2 separate regions of the Homo sapiens genome follow, and region 1 is linked to region 2. Evidence: fine-mapped expression QTL. A gene starts in region 2. The other region holds a variant in brackets. All regions are shown on one strand. Distances are from middle to middle.

Region 1 (12,134 bases), 310 kb after region 2:
TTTTGTCTATAAATCTTCTTCCACCACATAGCTGCACTGCAGTCTCTGAATCTCCCGTGATTCTTGGGGCTGCCCGACTCGCGAATTGTTCACTGCTCAATTAAACTCCTTTAAATTTAATTCAGCTGAAGTTTTTCTGTTAACATTCCAAATAATAACATTCCAAATAATAAAATGGTCTTTCCACCAATCCACTTTATTAAATCTTCACACAGTTACATTTTCTCTTCAGGTGCATTGTCTACAGGTTGATTTTGCTATATATTTAAGGCAAATAATAAAGCAACATCTATACTTTTAAAAAATCAGTGACACATACACACATTCTGTTTCTCTCACAATCACACAAACACCCACGCATATCCCTAACAAGGTACAAGAATAAACCTTGGAAGATTCATATTTTGCTCAGCACCTCTCACCTTAATTCCTCTAATACAAAAATTTTACCAGTTTAATCATTTGGAAGAGGAAAAGAGGAACTACATCTTCAAAATGGACACAATTTATGTGAAACAAAATATGGAGAAAACTTATCTATAAAATTTCTTCAGTGTTTTTCAGTTTAAAAACACATCAATAATTACCTTGAGAATAAGTTAAAGTACACATTTTCAGAAACAGCAACCAGTAAGCTCATTTCCACAGTACTCAAAACCAAGAGGCAAACTAAATACATCTTGTAAGGCGACCCATAAAAATAAAAATAAAATCAGTAATAATTTAGCCATTTAGTTTCAAAGTTATAGTTATAAAGCTAATTTTGCATTCAAGTGACAAAACCCTATCTACCATCAAAAACCAAACTGTGGCCAAAGACCTTCATATACAGCTTTTCCTTTTTTTAACCCATTTATGCCGAAGGTTGCAAACTTTTTTTGTGAAAAATCAGACCTTGGCAATGACCTGGAGCAGGATATAAATAACTCCCACAAGCTTAGTGTTCCAATAATGGAACACTAGGCACAACTGGGTTAATGAGACAAGGTCTTGCTCTGTTGCCCAGGCTGGAATGGCGGTGTGATCATAGCTCACTGTTGCCCTAAACTTCCAGGCCCATGCAATCCCTCTGCCTCAGCCTCCTGAGTAGGTAGGACTACAGGCAGGTACTACCACACTCAGCTAGTTTTTAAAATTTTTTTGAAGAGACAAGGTCTTGCTATGTTGTACAGGCTCATCTCAAACTCCTGACCCCAAGTGATCTTCCCACCTCAGCCTCCCAAAGCGCTGGGATTGCAGATGTGAGTCACTGCACCTGGCCCATATACAGTTCTTAAAAGTGAATTCCAGATAAACAGATATACACATGCACAGCAATAACAGTCTGCACATGAAGACCACTCAATGCGGAAAGAACAGACTATTCAACAAATGGTGCTAAGACAACTGGGTATCCACATGCAGAAAAATGAGGCTGGACCCCTTCCTCCTCGTACCTTATACAAAAATAAACTTAAAATCGACAAACAACCTACATAAGAGCTGAAATCATAAAACTCTTAGAAGATAACATACAGGTAAATCTTCATGACCTTGGGTATGACAACAGATTCTTAGATATAACACCAAAAAAGCACATACAACAAAAGAAAAAACTGTAAAATGAACTTCAAAATTAAAAACTTTTCTGCATCAAATGACATTATCAGGAAAATGAAAAGACAACCTGCAGAATGGAAGAAAATATTAACAAATCTGATAGGGATCTAGTACCTGGAATATATACAACAACAAAAATAAACTACTTGATTATAAAATGAGCGAAAGATTTTAATAGAATCTCTCAAATAAAATATACAAAAGGTCAACAAGAATATGAAAAGATGCTCAACATCATTCATAAGGAGAATGCAAATAAAAACGAGGCACAACTTCACACCCACAAGGATGGCTAATGATAAAAAGTTAAAAACAACAACAACAACTAACAAGTACTGGAAAATATGTGGAGAAATTGAAATCCTTGTACACTGCTGGTGGGAATATAAAATGGTATCTTTTCTATGAAAACTGGAGATTTCTCAAAAAGTTAAACATAGAATTACCATACAACTCAGCAATTCCACTCATAGGTAGAAACCCAAAAGAAGTGAAAACTAGTACTTCAAATAATATGTACACCCATGATCACAGCAGCATTATCCACAATAGCCAAAAAGTGAAAACAACCCAAATGTCTACCAACAAATGAATGGATGAACAAATCCTGGTGTATAGATACAATGAAATACTATGTAGCCATAAAAAGGAATGGAATGTTGGGCCAGGCACAGTGGCTCACAGCTGTAATCCCAGGACTCTGGGAGGCCGAGGCGGACAGATCACTTGAGGTCAGGAGTTGGAGACCCGCCTGGCCAACATGTTGTGGAATCCCACCTCTACTAAAAATCCAAAAATTAGCCGGGCATAGGGGCATGTGCCTGGGGTCCTAGTGACTCAGGAGGCTGAAGCAGGAGAATCGTTTGAAGCCAAGAGGTGGAGGCTGCAGTGCACCGAGATCGTGACACGGCACTTCAGCCTGGGCGACAGAGTGAGACTTGAATGTTGATCCATGCTGCAATATGGATGAACCTCAGAAACGTCATGCAAAGTGAAAGAAGCCAGACACAAAAGGTCATGTGTTATATAATTGCATTTACATGAAATATCTAGAATAGGTAAATCAACACAGACAAAAATGCATATTGGCTCCCAGGAGTTGGGGGAGGGGGAAATAGGGAGCAGCTGCTTAATGGGTAGAGTTTCTTACTGGGGTGACAAAACATCTTGGAACTAGACAGAAGTGGTGGCTGCACAGCATTGCAAATGTATTAAATGCCACTGAACTGTTCACTTGTAAAATGGTGAATTTCATATTATGTGAATATAACCTCAATTAAAAAAAAAAAAACAGTTTGCACAGATGTCTTATTAGCTAGTCTATACAATCTCCACTTCGGCCAAGGAATGCTCTCCACAGCTCCATGGTCCCCACTAAAACTCTAAAGCCTCCCTGGCTCACAGCCTGGGTGCAGCTGGAGACAAAACACAGGATCAAAAATGTCCAGCCAGACACGGTGGCTCATGCTTGTAATCCCAGTACTTTGGGAGGCCCAGGTGGGTGGATCACTTAAGGCCAGGAGTTGGAGACCAGCCTGGCCAACATGGTGAAATCCTGTCTCTACTAAAAATACAAAAGTCAGCTGGGCATGGTGGCGCATGCCTGTAATCCCAGCTACTCGGGTGGCTGAGGCATGTGAACTCAGGAGGTGGAGGCTACAATGAGCCAAGATGGCGCCACCACACTCCAGCCTGGGCGACAGAGTGAGACTCCATCCAAAAAGAAAAAAAAAGTCCTACAAAAAGAAACAGTAAGAATATACATTTACATAAATATTGAAATTTTATGCTAGAGACAAAAATGCTAGAGAAAAGTATACACTAAAACTTCCTTAACAAAATTCAAAAACAAATGAAGGTAAAGCCTTCTGCAAACCCAAGCAGTGGCAAATATTCAAGTCTGCATTACCTTCACCAATGTTAGAAAATAGCAGGCAACATATGACTTCCTCCTAAATTTCAAATTTCCAACTACAAAGGAGAACCACATAGAATCTTTCTAAAAACACCTACCCATATTCCGTGTTTGAGACACTGTAGGCAGTCTATTACTTTTGCAAGGGCTGACTCTTAATGCAAATAAAATTATAATACTGGCACTGTTAAGAATGTTAAAAACAAAAAAGTCTTTCTTCTCAGCTACTTGCTACATACTTTACTCAGCACCAAAGTGTACTAGATGCTACATGCTAACACAAAACATAAAGGAATAGTGTTTCTTGCCTTTTAGAGTGAATATTCTAAGAAGAACAAAGTGGAAATAACACAGTAATTTCCAAAAAGGTATGGTACTACATAATCAACACTGTAAGAATAATTTGAGGACATGACACTCACATCTTTCCTGTAGTGGACCCAAGCTAACTGGGTGAAAAAATTCAGCTAAGGAGGCATTCTTCCAGATATGAAAGACCAACTCAAGTATGCTCAAGAAAAATAAATTTTTGGAAGGATTCAAACTATCTTTCCTTAAAAAGACTTTGGTCAGACTATTCTTTGTGTGTGTGTGTGTGTGTGTGTGTGTGTGTGTGTGTGTGTGTGTGTGTGGTGGAGTCTCACATTGTCGCCCGGGCTGGAGTGCAATGGCGCTATCTTGGCTTACTGCAACCTCCACCTCCCGGGTTCAAGCGATTCTCCTGCTTCAGCTTCCCAAGTAGCTGGGATTACAGGCCCCCACCACCATGCCCGGGTAATTATATATATTTTTTTTGTATTTTTAGTAGAGATGGGGTTTCACTATGGTGGCCAGGCTGGTCTCGAACTCCTGACCTCATGATCTGCCCATCTCAGCCTCCCAAAGTGCTGGGATTACAGACATGAGCCACTGCGCCGGGCCAACTATTCCCTCCCTCCCTTCTTTCTTTTTTTTTGAGATGGAGTCTCGCCCTGTCGCCCAGGCTGGAGTGCAATGGCGCGATCTCAGCTCACTGCAACCTCTGCCTCCCAAGTTCAAACAATTCTCGGCCTCCCTAAGTGCTGGGATTACAGGCGTGAGCCACCACACCCAACCAGGCCAGACTATTCTTAACAGAAAATCTAGCTAATGAATGTGCAATACAAATAAGCAAAGTTGGTAGGCCCATAGAATGCTGAGGACTGTTGCTGTTTTAGTGAGAGTGTCCATCAGGCACTATGCCTGGCACTGTCAATATCTGCTACCATCCCCAGCACTTTGGGAGTCCGAGGCGGGTGGATCACTTGAGGTCAGGAGTTTCAGACCAGCCTGACCAACATGGCAAAACCCCGTCTCTACTAAAAATACAAAAATTAGCCGAATGTGGTGGTGCACGCCTGCAATCCCAGCTTCTTGGGAAGCTGAGGCAGCAGAATTGCTTGAGCCACGGAGGCGGAGGTTGCAGTGAGTCAAGATTGCGCCACTGCACTCCAGCCTGGGTGGCAGGGCAAGACTGTCTCAAAAAATAAAAATTAAAATTAAAAAAATCTGTTACCATTAATACTCAATAGTCCTATTTTTCCTATTGTAAAATCCACCATGCTAATTGCAGAAGGTATATTAGAAGTCAACTGGAGCCATTCATTATTAACAATCACTTAAGAGGCAGTTTCATTCAAGCAAGCTTTTATAAATCCCAACTGTATTCTCCCCCAGAAAGGCAGCAGTCAACATCCTTAAACATACTAACTTAATAATCAAGTGATCTAAGTCTTCACACAAGTCAATGAAGAAAACATTTAACAAAATAGAATCAAAGAAAGCATTTTACCTCACCACTAAAGAGCACCTTTGAAACTAGTGGCTATGCTTTCAGAGAAGGGCTGTTAAAATAGCTAGGCTTACAATTATATAAAACACATTTCTCTAGCTCTTTAACAAGGTGTCACAAG[C/T]GATTATTACATGCCTTTGTGAAATTAAGAGCTGGTATGTATGGCTAAGGAACCCTGTTGATCCCTCTGTAAATGTCATGCAGTCCACATAAAGGAACCAAGAGACAGAAATGTCAAGACAAGTTCACGTGCCATCCTAATGAGGAACTAAGACTAGAAACCAAGTCTTCAAAAAAAAAAAAAAAAAATGATGTCCATTATTTAATGGCATCATTTTCCCCTAGTTTCTCAAGGCAAAAAAAAAAAAAAAAAAAAGTTCAACTGGATACAGTGGCTCACACCTGTAATCTAAGTACTTTAGGAGGCTTAGGCAGGAGGATCGCTCCAGCCCAGGAGTTCAAGACAACATAGCGAGACCTCATGCCTACAAAAAGTTAAAAAATTAGTCAGGCACAGTAGCAGTAGTGCCTACCTGTAGTCACAGCTACCTGGGATACTGATGCAGGGGGATCACCTGAGCCCAGGAGGTCAAGGGTGCAGTGAGCCTAGATCGCACAACTGCACTCCAGCCTAAACAAGAGAAGACCCTGTCTCTTTGGTGTATGTGCTTGGCTGAGAAGCCAACAGGGTGAAGCTACCATCTGTGGGACTACGACTGAAGGCTTCTTAAGTCAGAATCCTGCCCAGGCGGAAAAACAAGGCAATGCTGAGGGGCCTCGGATAGCCTTGGCTACCGGTCCCCTGCCGGCGGGACACTGCCCTACCGCACACGGGGACACGGGTCTGGTGCGGAGAGCCATCATCCTGGAAAACAAGGTGTGGCAGTAAAAAGTTTAAAAAGTCATCCTTGACTTTCCTCTTAATTCATACCCTATCATTAAATCCAATCAACTCTACATTCAAAATAAGTCCTTAATCTGACCACCTCATCTCCTCTACTAAGACCACCTGGCCAAGCCACATTACAACCCACCAACTAGACTATTGCAACAGCATGCTCTCTAGTCTCCTAGCTTTCACTTTTACCACTCTATAATCCATTCCCCATATGGTGGCCAGAGTGACTTTTTAAAATTTGAAAGAAAGCTGCGGAAAGGCATAGTACAAAGAACTTTTTCATACTGCTTTGAAGTACATTATCTTCTCCATTATTTATAGTAATCCTGAGAAATAACTATAGCAAGTTTACTTTCTTTTTCATGGATAGACAAGGCTCAGAGAAGTGCACTGATTTGCCCAATATTACACAGCGAATAATTGGCAAGATCATGACTGGCCTTCTAAATACTATCAATTATGCCATTCAAGTCCCTCTGCATGTATGCCACTTATTAATCACCCTCATAAATCCTAACATCCTTTCAATGCCCAGAATTACAGTAATGTTTCAAAAGAACAGCTAGAGGTACAGAAACACTATGATTTTCAACCCGGCCTACAAATTTCTTTCCTGCTAAAAGCATAATGCATGCTCTGACTACAGGTCTACCACATGGCAAGTGTTTTTGTAAAGAATTAAAGGTGGCCGGGCGCGGTGGCTCACGCCTGTAATCCCAGCACTTTGGCAGGTGGAGGCAGGTGGATCACCTGAGGTCAGGAGTTCAAGACCAGCCTGACCAACATGGTGAAACCCGGTCTCTACTAAAAATACAAAAAATTACCCAGGAGTGGTGGTGGGAGCCTGTAATCCCAGCTACTCAGGAGGCTGAGGCAGGAGAAGCACTTGAACCCAGGAGGTGGAGGCTGCATAAAGCTGAGATCGTGCCACTGCACTCCAACCAACCTGGGCGACAAGAGCAAAACTCCGTATCAAAAAAAAAAAAAAAAAAATTCAAGGTATAAGCAAAAGAGCCCCGATAATGAGCAATTTAGCAGCATATTCCATGAGGCTGCAAGCTACAGCATGCCAGCTGTATTTGTTAGAACATATGGACCTACAAATGGCCTTTACATTTTTGTTTTAATGGTTGGGGAAAAAATCAATGGAATATTTCATGACACCTAAAAATTCTTAGTTAATTCAAAGTTCTGTGTCCATAAACGAAGTTTGATTGGAACACAATCATGCTCATTTGTTTATCTATGGTCCATGGCTGCTTCCACACTACAATGGCAGAGTTAAGCAGTTACAACAGAGGTCACTTGGCCTGAAAGGTCTAAATTATTTATCTGGTCCTTTACAGAAGAAGTTTGCTAACCACTGCCAATCTCTTGGTTTTGTACCTCTGGCCAGCATCCTGACCTCTCTCCTCCCTGCCAAGTGCAGGTGAAGCTTTCCCCTAGCACCTGATACTTCTCCCACCACTTTACACCCCATTTTGAGATGAATTAATTGTTACACATCTGACTCCACAGCCAGATAACAAGATAACAAGATGCTGAAGGGTGAGGCCCACATGTCCTGGTTTATTACTACATCCCCAGGGCCTAGCAATGCCCATTTATAGTAGGTGCCCAATATTAGCTGAATGAATGAAAGAACACAAGATACTTAATACAGATTAGCTTATCTAAACAACTCTAAAATTTATAGGAGTTTTTTTGTTTTTGTTTCTGTTTTTTGAGACGGAGTCTCGCTCTGTCACCCAGGCTGGAGTGCAGTGGCGTGATCCCGGCTCACTGCAAGCTCCACCTCGCAGGTTCACGCCATTCTCCTGCCTCAGCCTCCCGAGTAGCCGGGACTACAAGAAGCCACCACCACAGCAGGCTAATTTTTCTATCTGTAGTAAAAACGGGGTTTCAGTTCTGACCTCAAGTGATCAGCCCACCTTGGCCTCCCAAAGTGCTGGGATTACAGGCGTGAGCCACAATGCCCAGCCTATAGGAGTTTCCTCTAGAAGATACCAAAAATACAGATTATCAGACTTCCAGGGGAGACATACAAATGACTCTATCCCTGGGCTCACTCCAATCAAAATCCCCAACTGCATCCAAAATGGATCAGGGCAGGAGGGTAGATTGCAGAGTGGAAGGAGTGATAAATCAATATGCAGCCCAATGTATTTTTTAAAGCACTTTTTAAAGGCCGGGGGCAGTGGCTCACACCTGTAATCTCAGCATTTTGGGAAGCCGAGGCGGGTGGGTCACTTGAAGTCAAGAGTTTGAGACCAGCCTGGCAAACATGGTGAAACCTCGTGTCTACTAAAAATACAAAAAATTAGCCAGGTGTGGTGGCAGGCGACTGTAATCCCAGCTATTCAGGAGGCTGAGGCAGGAGAATCATTTGCACCTGGGAGGTAGAGGTTGCAGTGAGCTGCGATCAGGCCACTGACTCCAGCCTCAGTGACAGAGCCAGGCTCTGTCTCAAAAAAAAAAAAAAAAAAAAAGGCCAGGCGCAGTGGCTCACACCTGTAATCCCAGCACTTTGGGAGGCCGAGACGGGTGGATCACAAGGTCAGGAGATCGAGACCATCCTTGCTAACACGGTGAAACCCCATCTCTACTAAAAATACAAAAAAATTAGCCGGGCATAGCGGCAGGCACCTGTAGTCCCAGCTACTCAGGAGGCTGAGGCAGGAGAATGGTGTGAACCTGGGAGGCAGAGCTTGCAGTGAGCCGAGATTGTGCCACTGCACTCCAGCCTGGGTGACAGAGTGAGACTCTGTCTCCAAAAAAAAAAAAAAAAAAATTTAATAGAAACTCAGCCAGATGCAGTGACATGTACCTGTAATCTCAGACACTCAGGAGGCTGACGTGGGAGGATCACCTGAGGCCAGGTGTTCAAGGCCAGCCTGGGCAACATAGCGAAACCCCATCCCTTAAAAAATAAAATAAATATTTTTAAATAAGTAAACAGAATAAGAACTGCAAGTTCCAGTCTCAGATGTGAGATAAGAGTTTACATATTACTGATCTATAGGGCCAGTTTTAACCACCTCCCCCAAATTTTTTTCTCCCACATTGCCTGAATCTTTATATATTTCACCATGTCACACTGCCTATTAGTCATCTAATTTATTCTCTCACCCTAAAAGAAAGCTCTTTTCTAAAATACAAATAGATCTGAAAAATGAAAGAAGATAACAAAATATCATGTACTAATGTGGATGGATAAGGTAGTTTTGAGAGGAAGAGAAGAGTGGGTATTAAAAGAAGATGAAGACCTCAAGGACTGAGACAGACCTAGTTAAGATTCTGAAACAGAAAGAGCAGGGAAAACTAAGAATGCTGGGAAACAAACACAAAAATTAGCCTGGCATGGTGGTGAACGCATGGAATCTCAGCTACTCGGGAGGCTGAGGTGGGGAGAATCACTTGAACCTGGGAGGTGGAGGCTGCAGTGAGCCGAGATCGCACCACCGCACTCCAGCCTGGACGACAGAGTGAGACTCCGTCTCAAAAAAAAAAAAAAATAGAAGGCTAGGAAACAGAACAAAGAGCAGCAGAAGATGGGAAAGGGTACAGAAAATGAAGTGACACCCAATTCAGCATTTTTCCCCATTTTCTCCTGTAGAAAAACAGAAGAAAGGGCTCATCTCCGTGGCTTAAGAACACCCGGCATGGTGGCTCATGCCTATAATCCCAGGACTTTAGGAGGCCGAGACGGGCAAATTATTTGAGGCCAAGAGTTCGAGACCAGCCTGGCCAACATGGTGAAACCCCGTCTCTACTAAAAAAAAAATACAAAAATTAGCCGGGTGTGGCGGCACACACCTCTAATCCCAGCTACTCGGGAGACTGAGGCAGGAGAATCGCTTGAACACAGGAGGCAGAGGTTGCAGTGAACCGAGATCACGTCCCGGCACTCCAACCTGGGCAACAGAGCGAGACTCTGTCTCAAAAAAATTAAAAATTAAAATAAAATAGCCAGGCGCGATGGCTCACACCTGTAATCCCAGCACTTTGGGAGGCCACGGGAGGATCACAAGGTCAAGAGATTGAGACCATCCTGGCTAACACGGTGAAACCCCATCTCTACTAAAAATACAAAAAAATTAGCCAGGCGTGGTGGCGGGTGCCCGTAGTCCCAGCTACTCAGGAGGCTGAGGCAGAATGGCGTCAACCCAGGAGGTGGAGCTTGCAGTGAGCCGAGATCGCGCCACTGCACTCCAGCCTGGGTGACAGATCGAGACTCTGTCTCAAAAATAAATAAATAAATAAAAATAAAATAAAATATAAAAAATAAAAATAAAATAAAACCAGTAACAACATAAGAATTGACTCCTGTCTCCATTTCTATTCATTCCATAGCTAGAAATCTTTATAATGGTTGGGAAAAAAGGAGAGCAGGAGTAGCAAACATTAACAACAGGGGAAATAAACATTCGCCTTAATACTGACATGACTCTTCCTAGAAAACCCAAGGAAATTAATTTGAAACTACTAGAATTAATGAATTCGATAATTTGTTAGATTAAAAGGGCATCCATACTTTACAGTAAGAAGGATTCTAAAACTGCACCCATGCCAGCAACACTAAGATTAAAAAGTGGTGGCAAGAGGGTCACGTGCAGTGGCTCCTGCCTGTAATCTAGGTGCTTTCCGAGGCCAAGGCAGGAGGACTGCTTGAGGCCAGAAGTTTGAAACCAGCCTAGGCAATACAGTGAGACACCTGTCTCTATTTAAAAAAAAAAGAAAAAGAAAATAAATTAGCCAGCATGGCTGTGTATGCCTATAGTTCCAGCTACTCAAGAGGCTGAGAAAAGGAGGGTCCCTTGAATCCAGAAATTTGAAGCTACAGTGAGCTGTGATTCTGCCACTGCATTCCAACCCAAGTGACAAAAGGCGAGACTCTGTGTCTTAATTAAAAGAAAAAAAAAAGAAGGCCGGGCACGATGGCTCACGCCTATAATCCCAGCACTTTGGGAGGCCGAGGTAGGTGGTTCACTTGAGGTCAGGAGTTTGACAACAGCCTGACCATCATGGTGAAACCCCATCTCTACCAAAAATATTTTTTTAAAAGATTAGCTGGGTGTGGTGGTGCATGACTGTAATCCCAGCTACGTGGGAGGCTGAGGCAGGAGAATCACTTGAACCTCGGAGGCAGAGGTTGCAGTGAGCCAAGATTGTGCCATTGCACTCCAGCCTGGGCGACAGAGCGAGACTCCGTCTCAAAAAAAAAAAAAAAAAAAAAAAAAAAAACAAATAGTTATTACACAATTAATCTGGATCATATTTCACACTATATTCAACAAAAAAGTTCAGATATATCAAAGAGTTACAAATAAAAAATAATCCATAACATAAACTATTGATCCTAAAACCATATCCTGGCTTTGGGAGAGAGAAGGAGAAAAAATAATTTCTGAGTAAAGAGACAAGAGAGATGAATAGTAAACTTAAAGGAGTTCTGACATACAAAACTTAAACCTTTGCAAAGTTCACTCCTTCAATAACTACTTTTTAAATACATACGACATTTCACACACTGTGCTTAGGCCCTGATTTTTCAGAGTTTGAATAAAGCACATATGAGCCCTCACCTCACAGAACTGAAATCTACCGGAAAACACAGTAAATAGCACAAAAAGTGTACGGAAAGTTGCAATAAATAAGTACTAGAGGAAAAGACACATATCTCCAAGGGAACACGAACTTAGGAGGGACCACAGATGGAACGGTCATGAAAGTCTCCAAGGCATGACATCAAAGCTGACGACAGAAGGAAGAACTCGCACCTTGGCCAGGCACAGTGGCTCAGGCCTATAATCTCAGCACTTTGGGAAGCCAAGGCAGGTGAATCACATGAGACCAGGAGTTTGAGACCAGCCTGGCCAACAGGGTGAAGCCCCATTTCTAAAAGAAAAAAA
Region 2 (12,134 bases):
AGGAAGTTTACAAATTTCTGAGAGTTTAGTTGCCAAATTCTGACCTAGCATATAAGAATTCAAGTGTTTAATAAATCAGTAGCAATTTTCCCAAATCCAGAGTTTGATACGGAGCTAAACCATGTCATGAGCTCACCCATCATTCGAGTTACTTTGCCCCTTATCAATGAAGTCATTGGAAGTAGTAGCAACCTGGTTTGAGAGGGTTATGTGGTACATCGTTTCACAAATTTCAGAAATAATTTATACTACTCTACTTTCTAAGGAAGGTGGAAACCTAAAGTGGGTGAATAGCTGAACACTTGGAACGCTCGGATTTATTTTCCTATAGGTGGGGGTCTTGCTATGTTGCCCAGGCTGATCTTGATCTCTTGGCCTCAAGTGGTGATCCTCCCACCTAAGCCTCCTAAGTAAATGGGACTACAGGCGTGTGCCAGACACCTGGCTAATATTTTAAAAAAATTATTTGTAGAGACAGGGGTTTCATCATGTTGCCCAGCTTGGTCTCAAGTGATCCTCCTGCCTCGGACTCCTAAAAGTGCTGGGATTACAGGCTACTTGCAATTCCTTTTTTTTTTTTTTTTTTGAGACAGGGTCTCACTCTGTCCCCCAGGTTGGAATGCAGTGGTGCGATCTCAGCTCACTGCAACCTCCACCTCCCCAATTCAAGCAATTCTCATGCCTCAGCCTCCTGAGTAGCTGGATTACAGATGTGCACCACTACGCCCAGCTAATTATTTTGTATTTTTAGTAGAGACAGAGTTTTGCCACGTTGGCCAGGCTGGTCTTGAACTCCTGGCCTCATGTGATCCACCAACCCTGGCCTCCCAAAGTGCTGGGATTATAGGCATAAGCCACCATGCCTATAATCAGCCAGCAATTACTTTCAAATGCTATCTATCATTTGTGGGCATTACATAATAATCTAACAATAAAAGGTATTGCTTAGGATAGTTATGAATAATTTAAAAATTATTATAAAGCTAATCAGACTTAGGTTAAATATGTTATGCACTGGCGTATAATCTATCTTAAAAAACAAATGCAATCAGTTCCTTTTCCTTGGCCTAAAATGTAGACCGACCCAAGATCTCAGCTTTCTTGCTAAATTTGTCTCCTATTAAGACTGAATCTACCCTGTTTTGGCTTTTATCTGTGAAGACTATCAAATGTCAATTATTTTTCTTGAAAGTCAATTCCTTCTTCTTCCTTATACCCACCCAGGCAACAATTACGGATGTTTCTGTAATAACTTAGATTCCTTCTTTATCACTCCTGCTCTGATTCAGGCTCTTCTTGCTACATTGAGGGCTCTAAAAGCCAGTCTCTTCTGGGTTGAAGACAGGTATGTTTTAAAGTAAGTCTTTCTCTGTCCTGTGCCACACCTCATGCCTGTAATCTCAGCACTTTGGGAGGCCAAGATGGGCGGATCACCTGAGGTGGGGAGTTCGAGACCAGCCTGGCCAACATGGCGAAACCCCGAAATACAAAAATTAGCCAGGCGCGGTGACAAGCGTCTGTAATCCCAGCTACTGGGGAGGGTGATGCAGGAGAATCACTTGAACCCAGGAGGTGGAGGCTGCCGTGAGCCGAGATCGTGCCACTGCACTCCAGCCTGGGCAACTGTGCAAGACTCTGTCTCAATTAAAAAAAAAAAAAAAAAAAAAAAGGCCAAGTCATCCTTCAGACAGTGTAAGTAGGGCAAAGATTATGAACTCTGGTGAGGTCAGGGAGACAGATGTTAAAGTTAATGCTCTGCCACCTTGGGTAAGATTATATATAAAGTATATACAACAGCATCCAACAGTTCGGTGTATTACGAGAGCATTCTCTTTTGTGGGGAGGGAAGTCACACTAGCAGTTAAGGATTTCTCGTCTGGCCTTAAGTCAAGACTTTCCAATAATTCCCCTGTTCTCTCATTAATGTCACTAATGACCTGATGTGGCATTACCTTGCTAATTAAAAAAACAAAAATCCCAAACTCTTGTTATTCCTAAATCCTTACTTCCAACTGTTATTCTTACATCAAACTATACATAAAGAAATGGAAGTAGCATTAAAACTGAGCTAAGTTTAGGATGGGCACGGTGGCTCACGCCTATAATCCCAGCACTTTGGGAGGCTGAGGCAGGCAGATCACCTGAGGTCAGGAGTTCAAGACCAGCCCGGCCAACATGGTGAAACCCTGTCTCTACTAAAAATACAAAAATTAGCTGGGCGTGGTGGTGTGCGCCTGTAGTTCCAGCTACTCACGGACTGAAGCAGGAGAATCGCTTGAACCCAGGAGCCGGAGGCTGCAGTGAGCTGAGAACGTACCACTGCACTCCAGCCTGAGTGACAGAGCAAAGCTCCTTCTCAAAACCAAAAAACAAAACTGAGCTAAGCTTAAACTGGTAGAATGAAGTCTGGGAGAAAATAAATTAGTAAGTAAACATTTACTTGCTAAACAACTGTAAGGGAAAAACCAGGATATAGTTTTAAATTTGAGACAAATATTAATCGATATACTTTGAGAGGGGCACTTAAGAAATACTCTTTTCAGGATAAGAAATATTAAGGCGATATATTCTCTAAGAATAAGTTTCTACATAATCTAATCTAGTTTAGGCTTAAGTTGTATGAAGTACCGTTTGTATTAGGTTGATAACCAATTTAGTTTATTAGGAATGGTACTATATACAAGATATTTGCTGACTGAAAGCACGTTTGATACCTCAAAAGACAACGCTGACAACGCCGCTTTTGCAGTGTGCTTACAAAGGAACAAAAAACAAAACAAACCCCAAAGGCCATTTCTTTTTCAAATAAGAAATACAAATGCAGGATAAACTTCAGTGCTTGCAGCAAAACTAGGCATTAAAGAAAAATGCTATAAAATATATTTCCTTAAAAATATCCAGCTCAGTTTTTTTCTTCTTCCCACCTTTTTGGGGCAGAACTATCTCTGGGCCATCAGCAGTCTTCTGCCTTGCCTGGAGCCTCCCTAACCTTTCATCTCTTATCCAAATTGTTTATCAAAAGAGCTCCTTTAAAAGAGTTTAAAAGCCAGTATTTACAGTTTATAGACTGCACAGTTAATCTTATCAATCTCTAAAAAACCATGTATACCTGAATGCCCATCAAGTGTCAAGCACTAGGCTGGGTTATCAACATAAAGAATGACACATTTACTTGCGAGTAGGGATTTTGCAGTTTCAAGAGGCAAAGAAAAGGTTCAAATTGTATTATCCAGAAGTGAGAAAGACGCACTCCAGGTAGCAGGACAAAAGCACAAAGGTATGAAATGGCATAGCACTTTTGAGATGGTGTGCATTTTAATTTTAACACACCAGAAGATATGCTATGTGAACCTAGTAAGCTTACCGCAACTGCAATGTTCCAAAGTTAAGAGACAATAATTTCAACAAAAACAAGGAAAAGGAGGTTGGGGTGTAATTTACTCAAATAATCTTTGTGAGGGGATGGGGGAAGAAAATTCTTAAAAAACAAGTACCAAGCTTAGTATTTTTATTGAGCTCAGAAAGCCTGTGGTCCCCAGTAAACTTTTACATTGCCTACCTGTGGCACTGAAGCTGGCAGAGCTAAGATGGAGGTGAAAATTGGAGAGGTATTGGAACATAATAGGCCCAAATGAAATTGCCCAGGCAGAATATATGAATGTATGAAGGCAGTCAAAGAAAAGTAATTCCAAGTATGAACAGTATTTAAAATGCCATAGGAAAGTCAAGAAAAATTGAGAGCTCAAGAAGTTCGTGGATTTGGCAATCAGGAACAATGAAGGTACACGCTGATTAAAGGCACAAAACAAGGAAAGGGTGTTTCCATTCGCTTGGAAAATGGCCTTTTTTCCTTATTAAGGCACGGTGAAAGTAGAAACATTCTGAAAATTACCTTAAAATCTACTGACTTCATATTTAGTTCCCTTTTTAAGCAGGAATAAAAACTGCTATGAAGGAAGGGGAGACATCTTACACGTAACAAAGTAACCCTTGAAGACATTCAAGAGTTCTTAATGCTTACTTTCTATTCAGAGTGGACAAATTACATTCTTTGTACTAAATATTTATAGCTCATCCACATTCAGTTGCTTATAACTGAAAAAAGAAATCCACAAAAACTAGTGAGGATTTAAGGATACACAAATGAATTAAAAACCCAATCTTGTTTTCAAACTACCAAGAGCCTACAACTAAGACTTAAGGAAATAGCACAACCTTGACCTCAGGTTCTTTTCAGGTCCAGCAATCATTTTCTCGTAGCACCAAGTATAAGCGCTCTGCCAAGAAGTAGGCCAGATTTTGGCTGCAAATGTGTTTGTTGAATAACTCCCCACCCTCTACACCACCCAAAAGGAGAAGCCCTTTAAAAATTATTTGCTAGTTTTGACTACTTTAACTAGTTTGGCTAAGTGGGAAAAACGAAAAACAAACTTAGTCTACCTTAATGAATATGCCAAAATAGCCCCTAAAACTGCTGGATATTTTCTCCTATCGAGATTTCAAAAGCTAAAAGTATAGTTTGTACTACTATAAAAGTGCTTCAAATTTCATGATGATGCAGGAACCTTAAGGAATAATATTCACCGGAAGTGCTTATAATTGCATCTTTTATTTTTAAAAACTACAAAAGGGCAACAGAAAGAAAGCAGACTTGAAAGTACTGAAAAGTCTTACAACTTAATACAGTTTAAAACACGGCTTTTATTCCGTATTACTAATGCCCAGTGCAAAAAAAAAAAAAAAAAAAAAAAGCAGGCCCGGCGCGGTGGCTCATGCCTATAATCCCAGCACTTTGGGAAGCTGAGACGGGCGGATCTCGAGAGTTCGAGACCAGCCTGGTCAATGGGGTGAAACCCCGTCTCTACTAAAAATAGAAAAAATTAGCAGGGTGTGGTTGTGGGCGCCTGTAATCCCAGCTACCTGGGAGGCTGAGGCAGGAGACTCGCCTGAACCCGGGGAGGCGGAGGTTGCAGTGGGCCGAGATCTCGCCTCTGCACTCCAGCCTGGGCACAAAAGAGCGAATCCCACCGACAAAACTATATTCTTAAGGGATGTACAGACAGAAAACTGAAATAAAGAACAGGAATCACAGGAGGAAGGAAGAGTCTGAAAAGGGCCCTTAAATTCAGATGGCTGCTTATGCCTTTTCAAAGCAATTAAAGTGTTCCTGGGTGTTATTTACACCTTTAAATTTGTTTCCAAACTTTGGAAATACTTTTCTATTTCAATCTGAGAAACTGTTTCCTCAGAAAGTAATCGATCCTCCTTGACGTTGTACCCCCAGAAGCTGGTCTACCCCTCGCTAGGCCTCCCAGAGGCCCTCAAGGACTCCTAGTTGATTCCGAGTCCCACGTCAGGGAACTACCACCTTACATAAGTATACTTTGCGGGGAGAAAGGCAGATAAGAAAATAGGGCGCCAAACCTTCTCCACCAACAGCCGTCACACCCCACGAGGACTGTCCTGCGGGGGCTTTCCCCTGGGAGCCGCAGCTGTTCTGCCGTATGGGGGAGGGGAACGCTTTCCAACAGTCATCTCTTCCTCTTCAGGCCGCCAACGCCGACCGCACCACAGTCTCCTCCGCCCAAGCCCTGTCCCCTCCCCCGCCCCGGCCTGGGTCGGAGCCAAACCCCACAGGAATGCAGCCCGGTCACATGCGCTGCGGCGGTGGACGTGCCTCTCCCCCCGCGCCCCAAAGAGACCCAGCGCCATCTTGCCCTGACGCAGTTACAAAAGTCACGGGAGAAATCCTGTCTCCTCCTCCGCGCCAGCGCCCCAAAGTTTTGCAGAGGCCGAGCCGGGGCCCTCACCTCGCGCAGGGACAGTAGAAAATGGTCAGGGAAGAGCCTTGCGATTCCCTTCGCCACTGCTTGGGTTCCATATCGGCCGCGGCAGCAACGATCACCATCGTCACTTCTCCCTCTCTACCTTTGCAACAGCCTCCCCCTACGGCTTTGGCCCCACCCGCTGCTGCAGGATGAGGTCATCGCCAGCCAACCACGACGCGCCCGACAGGACACATCAGGCGCTGATTGGCTGCCGAGACCGCCTCTGCCTCTCCCCACTCCGCTTCCCCCAGCGCTCTGGGTCGCTGCGGGGCAAGGGGAAGACGGAAACCATTTCGGGGAAAGACCCCCAAAACAAGAGCCGGAATCGCCGTGTCATTTTAGTGGGGAAACCCTTCTTTTATTCTTTGGTCTCCCCCTTTTTTCTTCGAGATCACTGTCTGTCCCTCCCTCGTTTAATCACCGCCATATAAAGGAATTCCCACTCCCCTCCCCGCACATTGTCCCACCGGTGGGGAAATCCTTCCCCGAGGCCAAGAGAAGTATAGGAGGCAGCGACGGCAACTGCACCGACGGCAACGGCAGCTTTTTACCCCGAAGCACGGTGGCAGGGAGGCGGCGTTGACGGTGGCTGCATTTTTCCGGCTGCTTCTCCCCCCGACCTCTTCCGTTTCTTGCTCCTCCATCGAGACAGCACTAGACTCGCCAGCTCCGCTTTTATCCGGTGCCCGGAGCCTGCGCACTGGAGCCTCCTCAGCCCCTAGTGGGCGTCGAGTGACACCCCAACCGGGTTCACCCAGCGCTGGAGGCCAGACTGGGCTGGGGGAGGAGGGGGAGAGGAACGGGGAGACGGGACTGGGGTTGTTTGGGAGGGGGAGAAGGTGTATCGCTTTCGGAGGGTGACGGGAGGGAGTTCGTTCCCAAGCCCTGCTGTCCTTGTTCGTGCACCCAATACTGGCATGCCCAAGCTCACCTATATCCAGACTTGAGGGCCACTGGGGGAAAGGGGGAAAGAACCAGTCCCACCGAATACCGACACTTCCTCAAACCTTCGGTGGATTGTTGAATGCATCTGTTGTCAGAAAGACAGAGATTCCGTCCCCCTCACCGCCTCCAGTTTGCTATCTTCGAGCCTCCGCGGAGAGGCAACGGCGGGCGGCAGCCCACAAGCAAAATGGCGCCGGGCAGCTTCATCCCCTCCCCCTCTGCCCCTGCGGAGCGGGACGGGCGTACCCCGTGCACTTGCCGCCGCCGCCGCCGCCGCCGCGGCCGCCGCCGCCGCCGCCGCCATTTTCCCAGAGCGAGAGGCAGTGACACTGAGCGGGCGCAGGGGGCCGAGTCGGAGACCGTGCCGGAGTTCGGGAGCGGCAACAGAGTGGGCATAGACACTCCGAGCAGCCTCGCCGTCGTCTCTGCGTTCCTGTTGACTGCCTGGCTGCCCCCTCCCCTACTCCTCGGTTCCTGGTGAAGAGGCTGCGCGCTGCTGTTTGGGGAGGGGGTGTGTGGAGCCGGGTCCTGTGTCCGCAGTGGCTGCTGTCGGGGGGTCGCCTGTTCGCGGAGGTGCGGAGAGACTCCTTGGGGGTCGAGCACATAACGGGGTTCGGGTGTCTCGTGTGTGAACATCACAGGTTAGTGCCTGTCGTCTCCATGGGAGTTCCTGGGGCTTGCGGGGTTGGGGTACTTGTGTTTCAAGGGGGAGGGAGGTCTCTCATCTTTATCCTTAAGCTGGGGGAGCCGACGTTGACTCTCAGGTGTCTTTGCCGGCGCAAGACGTTGCTTGCTTAAATCGAATTTATTCTTTCTTCTCCCTGACCCTAGAAATGGAGCATTATGGCGGGTTTTAGGGTTGGGAAAGGGGTAACTGGCAGTTAAACCCCCTTGAGAGTGGGGGAGTTAGGGAGGGGGCGCACTCCTCATTGGCAGCGGGTTAAGGCCGCTTGAGTGAAGACGGAGGCTTGTGACTGTTAGTAGGGTTTGTGTCGAAGTGGTCCCAGGAGCTGCCAGCGCTCCCTTTTCTCAACCGCGTCTTGTTCAGGTGCTGAAAAGCCATATAGGCCCCATTTTCTTCTTCCATTTCTTGACGGGCAGTCTCTGGTATAATGTGCACATGAATACGAAGGGGGTAAGAAGAACGCCCTGGGCATCTCTCTTTGTGGGAGAGCGAGACAGCTAGCTCCTCATCCTCTCCTGGAGAGGGTAAACCCGCCCCTGAAGTGGTCACCCCAGTACCCAGCCTTCTCAGTCTCCTCCCCCACTCCTTTTGCATTACCGCCGTCCTTTACTGTGCCGGAGCCTTAGGATCTACAATATGGCTCATTTCAGAAAAGCTTATTTTGACCAAGGGATTGGCACAAATTCTATGGCAGCAGACACAGATGAGAAACAAACGGTTCACTGTGCTAAACGGGGTGGGGGTGAGAAAAAAACAATCCAGAGTGCTCTCTTCTACTGGCCTTAGTTCCGTATAGATCCGTCCTTGCTGGGCTCTGTCTTAAGAACGATACAATTTAAAGTCAAAGAGGAATCGCTAGAGTTAGCTCTAGAGTAAACCTCGTTTTGCCTATTTTGTTCCCTTTTTAGAGATGTGAATAAGGTAAGGTGTTTGGAGTTCTGGAGACCTTGGAGAGAATTAAGTGAGGTGCATTCAACTCGAGGCTGGAGACATGAATACCTATTTGGAAAATAGTCTGTTTTTTTCCTTCAATTTCTGAGATGGGGAGTAAAAACTGAAATTTCCCTCTTTTGTCCTTTACAGATTCTAAAAATGGCGGCCCCAGGCTGATGTTGTGGTAATCTAATCAGCTCGGGTCCTCCACACCCCATGCAGTGCGTTTGTCTGCAGCATATTACAGGCTTATTATGTTTACATGAAAAGACTGGGCTGTTTTTCCTTCCCCGAGCCAGTTACAAAAATGTGTTGATTTTTTACTGCAAATTACAGTGCTGTGTTTTAGCTGATTAATTTGATTCGTTTTTCCTGAAAGGCAAATAAAATGTCTCCACTTTTGAAAAAAAAAAACAGCCTTGCAAATTTCAGTGGTGATGATGGGTGCGCTTCAACATTAAAAAAAAATTATTTGGGTACCAATAATAGTTTTTGTTTGGTTTAATCCAACCATCTTTTATTCAATATGCCAAAGTAGATTAAAATGTTTAGTAACTGTATAAGTATCATCTATTTTATATGATTAAATGTTTCAATCTAGAGTAAGACATTTCCCAACCACCTCTTGACCCATTTTGTGGATTTTGGTTTTTGTATTGTGTTTTAGCTTAAATTTTAGGGAGCTGTACAAACAAGCTTAAACCTGTTACTTCATTGGGTGTAGAGATGCCATTATATTTTGCCATCCATTTTTCCCATGTATTTAAGCTTTCCTTAAGAATTTTCAAAGTTTATTGTGTATTTGGTAAAGTGAAGCTTCATGCTGCCTTTAACAATCGTCTTACAGCATACTATCATCATTATGTAAGTTAAAAGTAAGGCTCCGATTCTGGATTTTTTTCCTCTTCAAATATGCCCATTTACCTATTATAGGATTGTGGAATTTAGTCTGTTTTAATAGACCTTAAATAAAAACATTACCATAATAGGGTCTTGAATCCATTTTATGCTATTTTCAGAAACTTACAGACTGAGACTGAAAATTAAATGGTGTCAGGTGTCATTTAACTGAATTTTTTAAAGTGTGAAAGATTAGAATTCACTTTCGTAGTGGGAGTTCTTTTTGGGTTGAACTAAGCAGTGAGATGTGAGTGGGCCATTAATGACATTTAATGACCATTCTGATTGTGGAGCAACGGAAAGATGAGTGCTTTTCAATCCAGTAGTACTTTAAAAGGTTGAAGAGTATACACTGTTTCATGATTCTTTTATTCCATTGTAAATATTTTAGAGCAGCATTTACTTCATATGGTGACTGTATCAACTAGGTTGATAAGGTTCTAGCCTACGAAATAATTAGAGAAATAACTGGCTCAAGGATTTTCTACATACCAGTGAGCTTCATCATGGAAGACTGAGCACACAACCTTACTTAGAATATTTGAAATATTTTATTATAAAGTGAAATGTTGGTGGGTAGTGGGCGAAATTTGTGTAGGGTTTTGGGGTCAGTACTCATTTGTATTTTGATCTGAGCAAGTATTTAAGTCCAGATCATTCACTGCTGTGTAAAGATTGTGCATTTATTTTAAAGGCTGGGTGATTAAGGTCTGTGGTTCAGAAGCTTGGTACTTTAAACTTACTATTCAATATACAAAATCAGTGTATTCTTAAAAATTTGATTTATGTGGCCATAGGAGGGAACACTGCCTGTGCCCGATGGTTTTCTTCATAGAGACCTTGGTCAGGTCTAGACAGACAAAGCAATTGAACTTATTTGGCTTCAAATGAAAAATACCAAGTTAGAAATTATAGGAAAAGCTGTCTTCAGTTTACTAGCTTTCTTCATATTGGCTTGCTTTATTGCTTTAGGTTTTGTTTCTTTTTGGTGGTGGTGGTGGGTGGTTTTTTTTTGTTTTTTGTTTTTTTTTTTGATGTTTTAGTTCCTGTAAAATGATACTGGCTTTTTTTTTTTTTAAGTATTGTACCTTATTTTGAATGGTTACTTTATAAATCACGAGGCTATAATTGTTTGTTTTTTGTTAATTTACTATGTGTGTTTTAAGTTAGGATTGTCTAGGCAAATTTATTAGAAGGTTAGGCATAATTTTTGTTCCCAGAGAGTTTTGAAAGAATTTGGTTCCTTGGGGGAAACTAGTCAAATGGTCTTTGTTCTAGGATAGCTGAGTTTGAAGGATTAGTTGTTTATCTGTTTAAGTGGATTTGTAGAGAACTATAATGTAATTGGAGAGTTAATTTTATTTTTAGAGCCTACATTTTGATCATACATCCTTTCGTTGTCAGTGTAAATGAAAGGATCTCTCTGATTCCAGTTTAAGTGTAGAGCCTTGACAGGTCTCCATTTCCCGTCAACTCTGTAAGACTGATAACTGCCCTACAATTTTGGCTCGTCTGACTTCCTCACAGCTTCCAGAGAGAAATCATTGCCATATATGCCCCCAGTAAGCTCTAGGACTTCTTGAGTCTATTGAGGCAGTAGGGAGAAAAGCTAATTAATAGGAGAAAAATTTCCCCTCAGTACATATCTTAGTGGTCTTAGGGAAATTATAATTTCTTAAATTGGCTTCTTAATTTCCAAGAATAATGTACTCGTTTTCATTCATCAATCTTCTAAAGAAACCTGTGGTTTAATTTTTAAAGGTGTGTTTTATGTAAACCCTAACAGCTCTGCATTTCTGGAAGCTACTACTACTGGGACTTAAATGTGTACAACCATAGTGTGTTTAAAATGTGTAAAACTAACAGAACTTTGAAGAGCTATCAAAACTGGTTAGGAAATACTAGTATGCAGTTTTCTCAACAGATGCTATTTTATGTTTACTATTTTAAAAATATTTTAATAATGTGTAAAAGCTTTTATCTCCAAAGGATTTGTTTTTAGCAGATGGTAGGTGCTTAATTATTTCTTGGATGTGAATCTTTTATTGAAGCAAACACATTTACATCTCAAATATGTAGGGTGATCAGGGACTGTTCCCTGTTATGTGTTAGAATAAATGTTAAATACTTGTATTCTGTGAGACTTGTTTCCCCCAATTTCATGATAGATTATCTATGAGACTTTTTAATATTGAAAATATAATTATTTTATGGTAAAATTAATTTTTATGTTGACTGGCAAATTAACGAGTGGAATACTATTTGAAATATTACTCTGTGAATGTTACTGGCTTTTAGGCTGGGTTTAAAATTGAAGTGGCTCGTATTTACTACCTGTTCTGTAATGTGCAGATGTTGGGAGGAGCCTTATTTTTTTCTTGACATTGAAAGAATAATTTTTTGTATTACCTACAAATTTACTTAACATGGAGGAACAGTATTTGTTGTTGAAATTGTTTTCTACACTAAACTGGAAGTGGATGGTATTTAACTAAAAATCTTGCAATTGCTATTAAACAATGAGTATTTTGCATTATATAAAATAAACAGTATTTTACTTTGTATAATATAAAATGAGTATTTTACTTTATATAAAATACTCTGTTTAATAGCAATTGCAATATTTTTAATAGCAATTGCAAGAGATAAGAATTAACCATATTATGATGCAAACAAATTGTTTTTTTGTTATTGTGAACTTCCATGCTAAGTGCTACATTAAAAATCAAATGAAGGTGACCCAGAGTAAGTTAATTAGATTTTAATTCATATCTTTAAGGATAAAAGAAGTTTTTATTAACCATTGGTAACTAGGATGCTTTTTACTTAAATCAGAGTCAGGA

What was found. PIP is the estimated chance that this variant, and not a neighbour inherited with it, causes the effect. A credible set is the group of variants that fine-mapping cannot tell apart.
Region 1: its variant is the best candidate, but not a certain one, in a credible set for the expression of KMT2E-AS1 in whole blood (INTERVAL, PIP 0.81).

The regions. Positions count from the first base shown.
Region 1 is chr7:105,319,872-105,332,005 of GRCh38, forward strand. The region is part of intron 2 of SRPK2 (SRSF protein kinase 2); the gene reads right to left. Among named protein-coding and RNA genes, the nearest start is that of SRPK2, 63 kb to the right of the region's middle. The variant C/T (reference allele first, on the strand shown) is at 5,446.
Region 2 is chr7:105,007,122-105,019,255 of GRCh38, forward strand. KMT2E-AS1 (KMT2E antisense RNA 1) reads right to left here and starts at 7,020. Exons shown (of 1, transcript NR_024586.1): 1 at 3,421-7,020. KMT2E (lysine methyltransferase 2E (inactive)) reads left to right here and starts at 7,084. Exons shown (of 27, transcript NM_182931.3): 1 at 7,084-7,414. RefSeq lists enhancers at 4,472-5,012, 5,634-6,003, 6,093-6,632, 6,424-6,473, 6,794-6,913 and 1 more and silencers at 6,624-6,673, 7,024-7,113.